Linked DNA regions of Homo sapiens: region 1 is linked to region 2. The links come from fine-mapping of genetic effects on gene expression. A gene starts in region 2. The other region holds a variant in brackets. All regions are shown on one strand. Distances are from middle to middle. Region 1 overlaps ANK2 (ankyrin 2). Region 2 holds the start of ANK2 (ankyrin 2).

Evidence for each region. PIP is the estimated chance that this variant, and not a neighbour inherited with it, causes the effect. A credible set is the group of variants that fine-mapping cannot tell apart.
Region 1: its variant is the best candidate, but not a certain one, in a credible set for the expression of ANK2 in pancreatic islets (PISA, PIP 0.71).

What each region holds. Positions count from the first base shown.
Region 1 is chr4:113,133,695-113,138,694 of GRCh38, reverse strand. The region is part of intron 1 of ANK2 (ankyrin 2); the gene reads right to left. Among named protein-coding and RNA genes, the nearest start is that of MIR8082, 16 kb to the left of the region's middle. The variant G/AG (reference allele first, on the strand shown) is at 1,934.
Region 2 is chr4:113,047,619-113,052,618 of GRCh38, reverse strand. It overlaps ANK2 (ankyrin 2), which reads right to left and starts at 2,966. Exons shown (of 46, transcript NM_001148.6): 1 at 2,807-2,966. The coding sequence starts at 2,890.

The DNA.
Region 1 (5,000 bases), 86 kb before region 2:
TAATCCTATACTCAAATATTTTAATCTATTGATTTCAAAATATTTTAAAATCCTACTTTCCCTACAAAATACACACATATGACATTTGAAATTAAGCAAGAGACATAGACATTGAAAATACACTTCCAGGCAGCAGCCAGGCATTCATCAGTCAATAACAAACCTAAGTTCAAACTAAATATCTGATGCTGGTTCAACTAGAGCATATATGAGTATTTATTTTAGAATTACCAATTAAACCTGATTTATTATGAGGATAACTGATTTTCTTGTACTGTGTTGAAACACAGAATCAACTAGGCTCTTCCAGTTGTGTTGCACCGACATCAGAGAGTTACTGTAAAATATGGTATTATGATTACTTTAAACAGCATGATGAGTGTGCATTTAGTCAAGAACAGTTGCACTACAATTATGGAATGATACATAGACTAAATTCATTTTATTTCAAAGACGGAAAACTTAGAGCTCCAAAAAGAACTTGAATTTCATTGTCCAACTTCATTCACTTGGGTTTTATTTCAGGATCTCTTTAGAGTAAATGTATCTATACACTTCAAGGTATAAAGAATTATTTATGATCCTTCATATATTATTCATACTGAAATAAATACCCTGAATATGTATCATTTGTTCTCTCTGGAAAATGGGAGAATTATTTTCAAGTTTTCAATCTTGCCCTACTTTTGTTTGGAAAACAAAATCACTTTATAAGCAATCAAAAACTCCAGAAATACAGTCATAAATATATTAGAAAGTCAATGCTGTTATTTCATTCTTCGAAAATTATGTTAATGTGGTCTTATGTCCTCTAAGCTCCATTGCTATTAGCTACATGCTGCTAGAAATAAATTCTAGATGGACACTATCAGCTGTCATTTTGAACTTTGGTGCTGTCATCTGTATAATGATAAGCTATAGTAAATACACTCATGCTGATGTTTATATGTGTTTAATCTTTACAGTCAGAAGTTTATAAATCACACTTAGGTCCACATAAAATTAATCTTCTCTACCAGAAGATAAGAAAGGAAGGAAGAAGGAAGAAGGAAAGAGGAAGAAGAAAGGAATATAAATATGATTTAAAATGCAGATATATCTCTAAAAATTAAGGGTTTTCTTCTTTAAGAGCAATTATTAAGTAATATTTTTAAGAAAAAATGTTTTCCTTTTCTACCAGTTCCTTAGTATTTAAACATGCTCAGTGCTTTCCTAAGCCAATGCCCTACTCAAACCTGCTCCTGGCCCAGTCTTCTCTGGCTCAGTGACCAGCAGCCCTATACACCTTGCTGCCCAAGCTGACAATCTTGAAGTGTTTGACATTACCTTTCCCATACATCCAGTCCTGCAGAGTCTACTTTTTTCCATCCCTTTGCCACTATTTTAGGTCAGTGATTTATTTCTTGACTGAATTACTGTAACTGTCTCCTAAAGAGTTTACTGGTTCTAGCTTTGCTCTGTTTCAATCCATTTGTCATGCGCCTTAGCCAAGGAGATCTTTCCAAAGCTCAGACCTATTCAAGGAACTCCCTATAATCTTCAAGATAAAAGCGAAAATCTAGGTCGGGCGCAGTGGCTCACACATGTAATCCCAGCACTTTGGGGGGCCAAGGTGGGTGGATCACCTGAGGTCAGGAGTTTGAGACCAGCCTGGCCAGCCTGTAATCTCAGCACTTTGAGAGGCCAAGGCGGGTGGATCACTTGAGGTCAGGAGTTTGAGACCAGCTTGGCCAGCATGGTGAAACCTCGTCTCTACTAAAAATACAAAAATTAGCTAGGCCTGGTGGCACGCACCTGTAATTCCAGCTACTCAAGAGGCTGAGGCAGGAGAATCCACTTGAACCCGGGAGGCGGAGGTTGCAGTAAGCCGAGATTGTACTGCTGCACTCCAGCCTGGGTGACAGAATGAAACTGTCTCAAAAAAAAAAAAAAA[G/AG]CCAAAATCCTTAATAATGTGGTATGGACTCCTATCTGAGCTGATCTTTCTTTCCCCAGTTTTTGCTTTTTGTTTATTTGTTTGTTTTGAGACAGGGTCTGGCTCTGCCACCCAAGCTGGAGTGCAGTGGCGCTCATTGCAACCTCCACCTCCCCCGGCTCAAGCGATTCTACCACCTCAGCCTCCCAAGTAGCTGGGATTACAAGCATGCACCACCACACCTGGCTAATTTTTGTATTTTTGGTAGAGACAGGGTTTCGCCATGTTGCCCAGGATGGTCTCAAACTCCTGGACTCAAGCATTCCTCCCAAGTGCTGGGATTACAGGTGCGAACCACCATTCCTAGCGTATTCCAGTTTTCATAATCTCATCTTTGCATTCTCTCCCTTGAAATTTCCTCTGGACTTTTATTAATAACTATTCCCCTGGATCACCTCCCTCCCTCTCAGCATCTGCAAGACTCCTCTTGGAAGCCCTGCCTGGCCAACAAGATTAGGAGCCTGCTGTGGACACAGAGCCATCAGGATGATTGTTACCCTGTATTTTAATTGTCTTTTTATGAACAGACACTGTATTTTATTTGTCTGTTTGTCCCTAGTACTCCTGATAGTGCCCCTATATAGCAGGCACTCATAATTGATTACTGACTAAATGAGCAATAAAAAAAACTTCCTTCACATACTTAAAATATGAGTGGTTTATGCAAACATTTATTTCATTCTTCTCACAAATATTCATTCAGCACTATACGCAGGCCCAAACACAACATTTAAATAAAAAGAGACAAATGCATATTATTACTGATGTACTCACAGAAATGCTTTAATGAATCTCCGAGAATAGCAATCTGCAGTCATTTATCCAATTACCATTAAAAATGATTTTGTTTTGGTCACATTACTATTCTGTCAGTTCTTGTATAATTATATTTTCAGATGTTTGATTTTGGTCCAGGCACCAAATCTGTTGGTGGCCATCTGAACATGAGGAGGAATGAAAAGAACAAAAATGCCAATGGCCACAAAAGCATCAGTAGCCATGAACCACAAGATGGTTCATGAGGTAAGAGTAAGACTGTTGATCACATCATGGATATTTCAGGATATCCATCAGTGTCACTATAAACATATGGAGAGTAATCATTGCTAATGTCAGGGAAATATAATTATTGTTCTCTAGAGGTCCAGAAGGATTACTCTTATCATAAATGTCTACACACACACACACACACACACACAGAGAGACACACACAGCTCTATGGTTTGGCCATCATTTGCCTCTACGGTATTACATGTAGTGAAAAGCTCCTTTCATTCCACTCTTTCCACCTGTAGAGCTTCTCTGCATTCTTTCATTATTGGTTCCCCTTTTCCAGTGATGGATCCATCACTAGATCCCTGCCTGACCGTGATATCTAATCCTCCTTACAGCTGTCACCTCTGTGTGGCCATCACTTTACTTTAATTACCTTTAATCTATGACACTCACTTGCTGCTCCTCTCTCCACAGTTTTTCTTTATTTTTCATAGGTATCTTTACTTCTAACATGTCTTACCTTCAAAGCAAATGCTAACCTTTTAGAGACAACAGCCACCAATAATATGGCATCTTGTAAATGCAAAAACACCCCACAGTTATCAGCCTACAATAAATACTCACAGAAAGATGTGCATTTTCTACTTGTGTTCATGACCAACAACCCATTCAAATACCCAGGTGGAGCTCTCCATTCTTTGCCACTGTGAAACATCAGTAATTCAGATATATGCTAACTGTAGTAATTGTGCATCCTGAAGAAATGGACACCATAAAACTTTAGTCATGCCACTTCTAATGTCTAAAATTAGAATTTCCAATTTTTAAGTTTCTATGGTCATAAAATTGATCTGACTTCATATTTTGATAACTTAAACTACATGGCAAAGTTCTAATCTGATTTTGTCAAGTTTTACTAAATACAAAGGTCATATAATATTTAGTAGACCAAGAAGTATGTCATGACAGTTTAATTTTGTCCTAAATTCTTCCTAAAAAAAGAATTATCAATAAAAGAGACTATGGCTTTCATTAACCACTGACATTTTAAAATGTCAATTTTACTGAAATATGCCTTTTCTATTTTAATAACATTTGATTTTAGCTGACCTGGAGATCAAGTGTTAAAAAAACATCTCTGATAAGGTAGAAGGTAGTTTTTTTGTCCTTGCTCTGGAACAAGGAGAACATAGTTCAGTTTATTATTATTCCATACTAAGATAAGGGGGGATCAATTTTCCTATGGTATAAAGATGTCTTCCAGATCCTTGGCCTCATTGTTCAGCAGAGCACAAGAGGCATTCAGAGATCTCTATGCACTCCCCAACTTTTCGTATTTGTTGTGAGTAATACCTCAGTAGCCCTCCTTTTTCATTTTACTTTGAATTTTGTCCTTGGGTTCTCTCTGTGGTTGCAGTGAGAAAAAAAAAAAAAAAAAAAAAAAAGACAACTTTCAGGAAATTTTAGAGCTACTTCCATTGCAGTTTAATAAACTAACTCCAAACTAGCCAGTCATATGATACTTTGGGCCAGAACCTACCTCACCTCTCTTCTACTCTAACAAGAGATTCCTGTTGATGACATCCAAGACTTAGAAATCGGCCTTGATGCTATTTTGATCATTGGAGGTGCTAGTAGTATAGATGGTTTCAGCACTTGATAACTCTAGCTCTTCTGTCCTTCTTCCTGTAATCTTATTATTAGGGACCTTGCTGTAGTGTAAATCACATCATAATTCTTCAGAGACTCCCCCTGCTATTTTGTTTGTCTGTTCCTTGAAAGGTTAGAAATATTTTTGTGTAACTTGGTGATATATATTTTTCATCCCAGCTACTCTTCTTTATAGCATTATAAGGTCAGTTGGAGAAGCACAGATTCAAGTCATCTGGGGTCTTACCTCTTCCTTCCTTCTTAAACCTCACTTTTTCCATTGGACAAAAGGGAGTTATAATCATTTCTACCTCATGGTGTTGCTGAAAAGATTAAATAAGTCAGTGCATCTTAAGTACTTAGGACAGTGTCCAGTATATAG
Region 2 (5,000 bases):
ATTCTCAACACACTCAGTAAAATTTTGACATAAATAAATTCCTCCTTGAGCTTGTTTTCTCACATTGTAGGTCTGGTGGCAAAAGACCCTTTAGCTCTGTCCCTCAGAAGAGGTACTTTTGGAAGGTACAGAATAAACAAGTAAATTACAGCCCATCTGTTACGTATTTACTAGAGATAGACGCATGATTTCAAGGAATATGATTCAGTAGGATAGATCCACACCCAGGCCATAGTGAGCTTGGTGGTCCGTAGTCCTGGATGCTTAAGTAGAATCCCACAGCAGATTCAATGTAAACCTCTAGTAGAAAAACAAACAACCGAATTGAAGTGATGTGACATTGACTTTACTCCAATTTTTGCTTTCTCAGCTTTTATGCTTATTAGGGATACTTATCTCTTTATCATTAATGTCCTCATCAAGGCACATTTAATGGTCTAGTGTTTAAATATGAAAATGTAAGTTTCTTGCTGTGCAAAATAATGTGAAACAATAATATAAAGACCTAAGGTACATTTATGTAAATCTCAATGATTTTTTGAGATAAAAAAGTTTCCAATTATAGCATATAACTTTTGACATTTTGAAAAATGACTACTAGCCTTTGCAAAGCACCAATATTGGATTCTGTCATTTCTGCCTCTCTCAAAAGTATAAACAGATTTTTCTCTTAAAAGGCTTATTGCAATAAACAAATTCCATTTAAGAGAATAACACCTGAAAGTTATTGCCATTGACTATATGTTTTAAATACTGTTCAAATAATCATATATACATTATTTCTAATCCTCATAAAATATTCTATATATAATTATTCTCATTTTACAGATGAATCCCTGGATTCATTAAATGAGAAATTAAATGATGTGCTCCAAACACACAAAATTAAAGGGTAGAACTGAGATTCAGACCCACTTATGTCTGACTGACTAGGCAAGCTGAGGGATGTGTATGTGTGTGTTTATGTGTGTGCGTCCCCTAATCTATTATGTAATTAGCATTTTTTTCAAAAGCAATTTCTTTTAGGTGAAACTCCTTTTAACACTCAATATTCATGGTGCTCTGACACACACATTCAAAACTTGCTCTTTCATTTTGGATGCAAGTTTGGAAAAAGACTTACTCCTAAAATAAATTTATTTGAGAAAATTCAGCTTAAAGATATGATAGTTATTACATAGGATGATTTCGTTGTCTCTACCTCCTCAAAGACTTTAAAATGGCTTTGGTCATGTGAAGTTAGTATCATCATTCAGAGCTCAAAAATCTCAAGATTCATTCTCCACCCCTTTAATAGTCCTGAGTATATTGTTTCTAAAGCACCACAGGGACTTTAGAGAGAAAATACGGGATTTTGAAATGATAATGTGAATTAAAACAAAAATTCCTTTTTTTCTTTCTTTTTCCCTCTCTCTTGCTTGCTCGCGCTCTCTCTTCTATTTTCTTTTTCTTTTTTTATGTTGTTCAATTAGCTAACACTCTATAAAAATGCCCTCAAGGTCTAGATCTGGAATGCTTAGGTACAAAAGGAAAAGGACATTCTACCAATGTTCCTGCTTGCCCTGAATTATCCTTTTGCCTGTTATCAGATTGTATCACTATCTCTACGCTATGATTAAAAATCATCACATGCTTATTTCTATCAAATTGCATGATACCATACAAATATACTACTCCCTTGTTTGCTGATACAGTGATCTTTTAAATATCAGAGGTTGCAAATTATTTACAATCTTTAGATTATAAAACATTTAGTACACTAGACATCTAGAATTTTGAAACACAATGCAACTTCATTAGCAAAATGAAAAATATTCATTTGTTCATGCTTATTATTTTTTGCAATCTGCTTATTCAAAATCCAAAACCATCTAATGTTGAAAGCCATTTACATTACAATCATATCTAATATCCTGCCCATATTATTGCTCCAGGAAATAAATGCATTTTAGGAGAATTTATTTATAGAGCATCTCTTTCAGAGGTGAGGCTCAGGGAAGCTCTGTGAGGCTGCAACAGTTTACCAGAAGGAGTCAGGCCATAAAGAAAGAAGTGCTGGCATTGGGTGGGGCTGAATAGTTTGCATCTTTTCCCACTGTTTCTCGCTGCTATCATTTCCATGAAAATCGAGGGTGTGGGAATGTATGCCACAGTAAGAAATCCTACAGACTGCTTTGTGTGCCCAAGAGCCCCCACCCCATAACATCTTTAGCTGTTTTTCTTATTATTGAAAGAGCTATCACACTAATGTCTGGGAAAACTGCAGAGGAGCTAAGCAAGCCAAAGAAATATCATGCTGGGGATGATATTTCTCCTGTCACAGCAGTCTTTTCTCCTTAGGAGGAATACACTTAGCATGAAACCAAAAGGCTTTTGCTGTCTAGCCATCTCAGGATCATCATAGAGCAAACGCATCTGGCCAAAAATCTGCCTTTTGCTTCACAATCCACGTTGCTTAACACTCTTCCTTTTACACACTAAAAATAAAACGACTCTCTCTACCCAGTTAACACCAGAAGAATCCATCAGTGGCCACGGTCCTCAGTAATCCACATGTGGAACACACCTTATCTCTATTCACTTCACCATGCTCCAGTCAGTGTATCCATTATGAGCCATGGCTCCTTTACTATTCTCAAAAAGCAGCAGTTTGCACCTGCCTCTTTAAAAAGCAAGGCTTGGCACTGTTATCGTCTACAGTTACTCATAATGCTCCACGGTTTCCATAGCCTTGCTGATATTACACACTCACACATGCACACACATACATATTTATACACAGACATTCCTAATTCCGGCGATTTACCTTCTTGGGTCTTTTTCTCCTCTGACTACTGCCGTTGAACTTCTCTCCACTGTCGCTTTTCTGAGCTGCATCTTCGTTCATCATTTTGAACAGTTTGGAAAGAAAATATCTCTGCCATCAAACCGTGCCGCCTGTACAGACCACTAGCGGGTATGCACTTACTGGAGGAAAGCAGGAGGAGGAGGAGGGGTGGGGAAGGGGCGCGCACTGGGAGGGTAAGGACGGTGACGTTGCCATGGCAGCAGCTGCCACAACTGTTTATCTGACTGCATTGTTAAATCTGATTCAACCAATTACCATCAGGAACCGGTTACAATGAAGAAAGCCTTGAAAAAAGAATGCCAGGGACTCGAATGATTTGGGGACTCTGCTGGTTGGTTTCTGACACACCCTTGATAGGATCAGCTCTCAACCTACACACAAAACCTGTACTTAATTTTCTTCCTACAGGTACTTCAACACGGAACAGATACAATGCATAATGAGAAAACTGTAACATTCTAGAATGTGTCTCTGAACCTGAAGAGGTACATTTAGCCAGTCAAGAGGCTACTTAAGGAAAAGGATTGGTTATTAATATCCTAAAGTGAATATAAGAAAGCTATGTTTTTCAGATGTCATTCACTTGGTTTAAAATATAATCTTTTGAAACTACACTCAAGGATGACTTCTGTCATAAAGCCTTGAGAACAGCTTCTCCAACCTCCAGATAACCCCAACCACTCTCTTCTCCTGTGCCTTCTCTTTCCAATGTAAGCTTCTGACAGTATACCTGTGACAATGTATTACACAACTGCCCAGATACCTAACCATCTTTTCTTGATAGGCCAAGAGCTTTAGATCAGGAGTGTGTGTGTGTGTGTGTGTGTGTGTGTGTGTGTGTGTGTGTGTGTGTCTGGGTAGGGGGAGAACTGAATTTCCCAGAACCAAGCATAATCCATGGCACATTAAAGGCAGTTAATCAAGGCTTGTTAAATATCTAAGACACTATCAGTAATAAAAACATAAAAAACTAATGGAGTTGCAATATTTTATAACTTATCTCAAAAGTTTTCTTAACCTAATTGTGTCTATTGACTGATGAATAAAACACAATCCCTCCTCTCAAGGGGTGTATACTATAAAGTTCTGGAATTCTTCTTGATTTTAAAAAAATGGGGCTTGTTTTTATAACAAGAAACCCAAATTCACTTATTGATTAAGGTGGCCATACTTGTATATTTAAAAATATTAACTTGTAGGCTGGGCGCAGTGGCTCATGCCTATAATCCCAGCATTTTGGGAGGCCAAGGCAGGTGGATCGCAAGGTGAGGAGCTCGACAACAGCCTGGCCAACGTGATGAAACCCTGCCTCTACTAAAAATACAAAAAAAAAAAAAAAATTAGCCAGGTGTGGGGAGGCTGGGGCAGGAGAATTGCTTGAACTCGGGAGGCGAAGGTTGCAGTGAGCCAAGATTGCCCCCAGTGCACTCCAGCCTCGGTGACAGAGCAAGACTCCGCCTTGAAAAAAAAAAAAAAAAAAAAAAAAAAAAAAAATATATATATATATATATATATATATATACACACTTGTAGATGCAACCAGAACCTAATATACTTTGTACAAATGCACATATGTATATTCTAAACACTTGCCCTTATTCCCAGACAATGAACGTAAAGTATAATACACAGCATACTTAGAAGTAAAAATAGAGTAAGGATTAAACCAACGAGATAGTGTATATAAATGCACTTTGAAATTGGAAGGTGCCTATGTAAATGTGTTGCTATTGCTAATCTTATTATTATTACAAATATAGACAGTTTTCAACTCTGAAAGTGTACCTTAAGAAACATATTTATGTGAAAATGACTGCAGCAGTTGAGAACTCACCTTTCCATCAGACAGAGCAACAAAAATTCACCTATTTCCCCATTGCTGTTAGGATTGCTCCTTCTCTCTGCCTTACCACCCTAAGGCCCCTCCACGTCATCATCTGGAGTCAACTCTGTTTTGCTGCCCCTCACTCCCTCCACCCTCCTCCTGTTTCAGCAGACCCATTCCACCAATGCCATTCTCTCACCATTGCTTCAGTGGTATCTTGGATCACACAGCCAGGCCAAAGAGGCAAAGGTTCTCTCTTTTTTTTTAAAACAAAACCCCAAAGAGCTTCTACAGAAGCCTCCAGAAGCCCAACTCCCACTGTGGTCA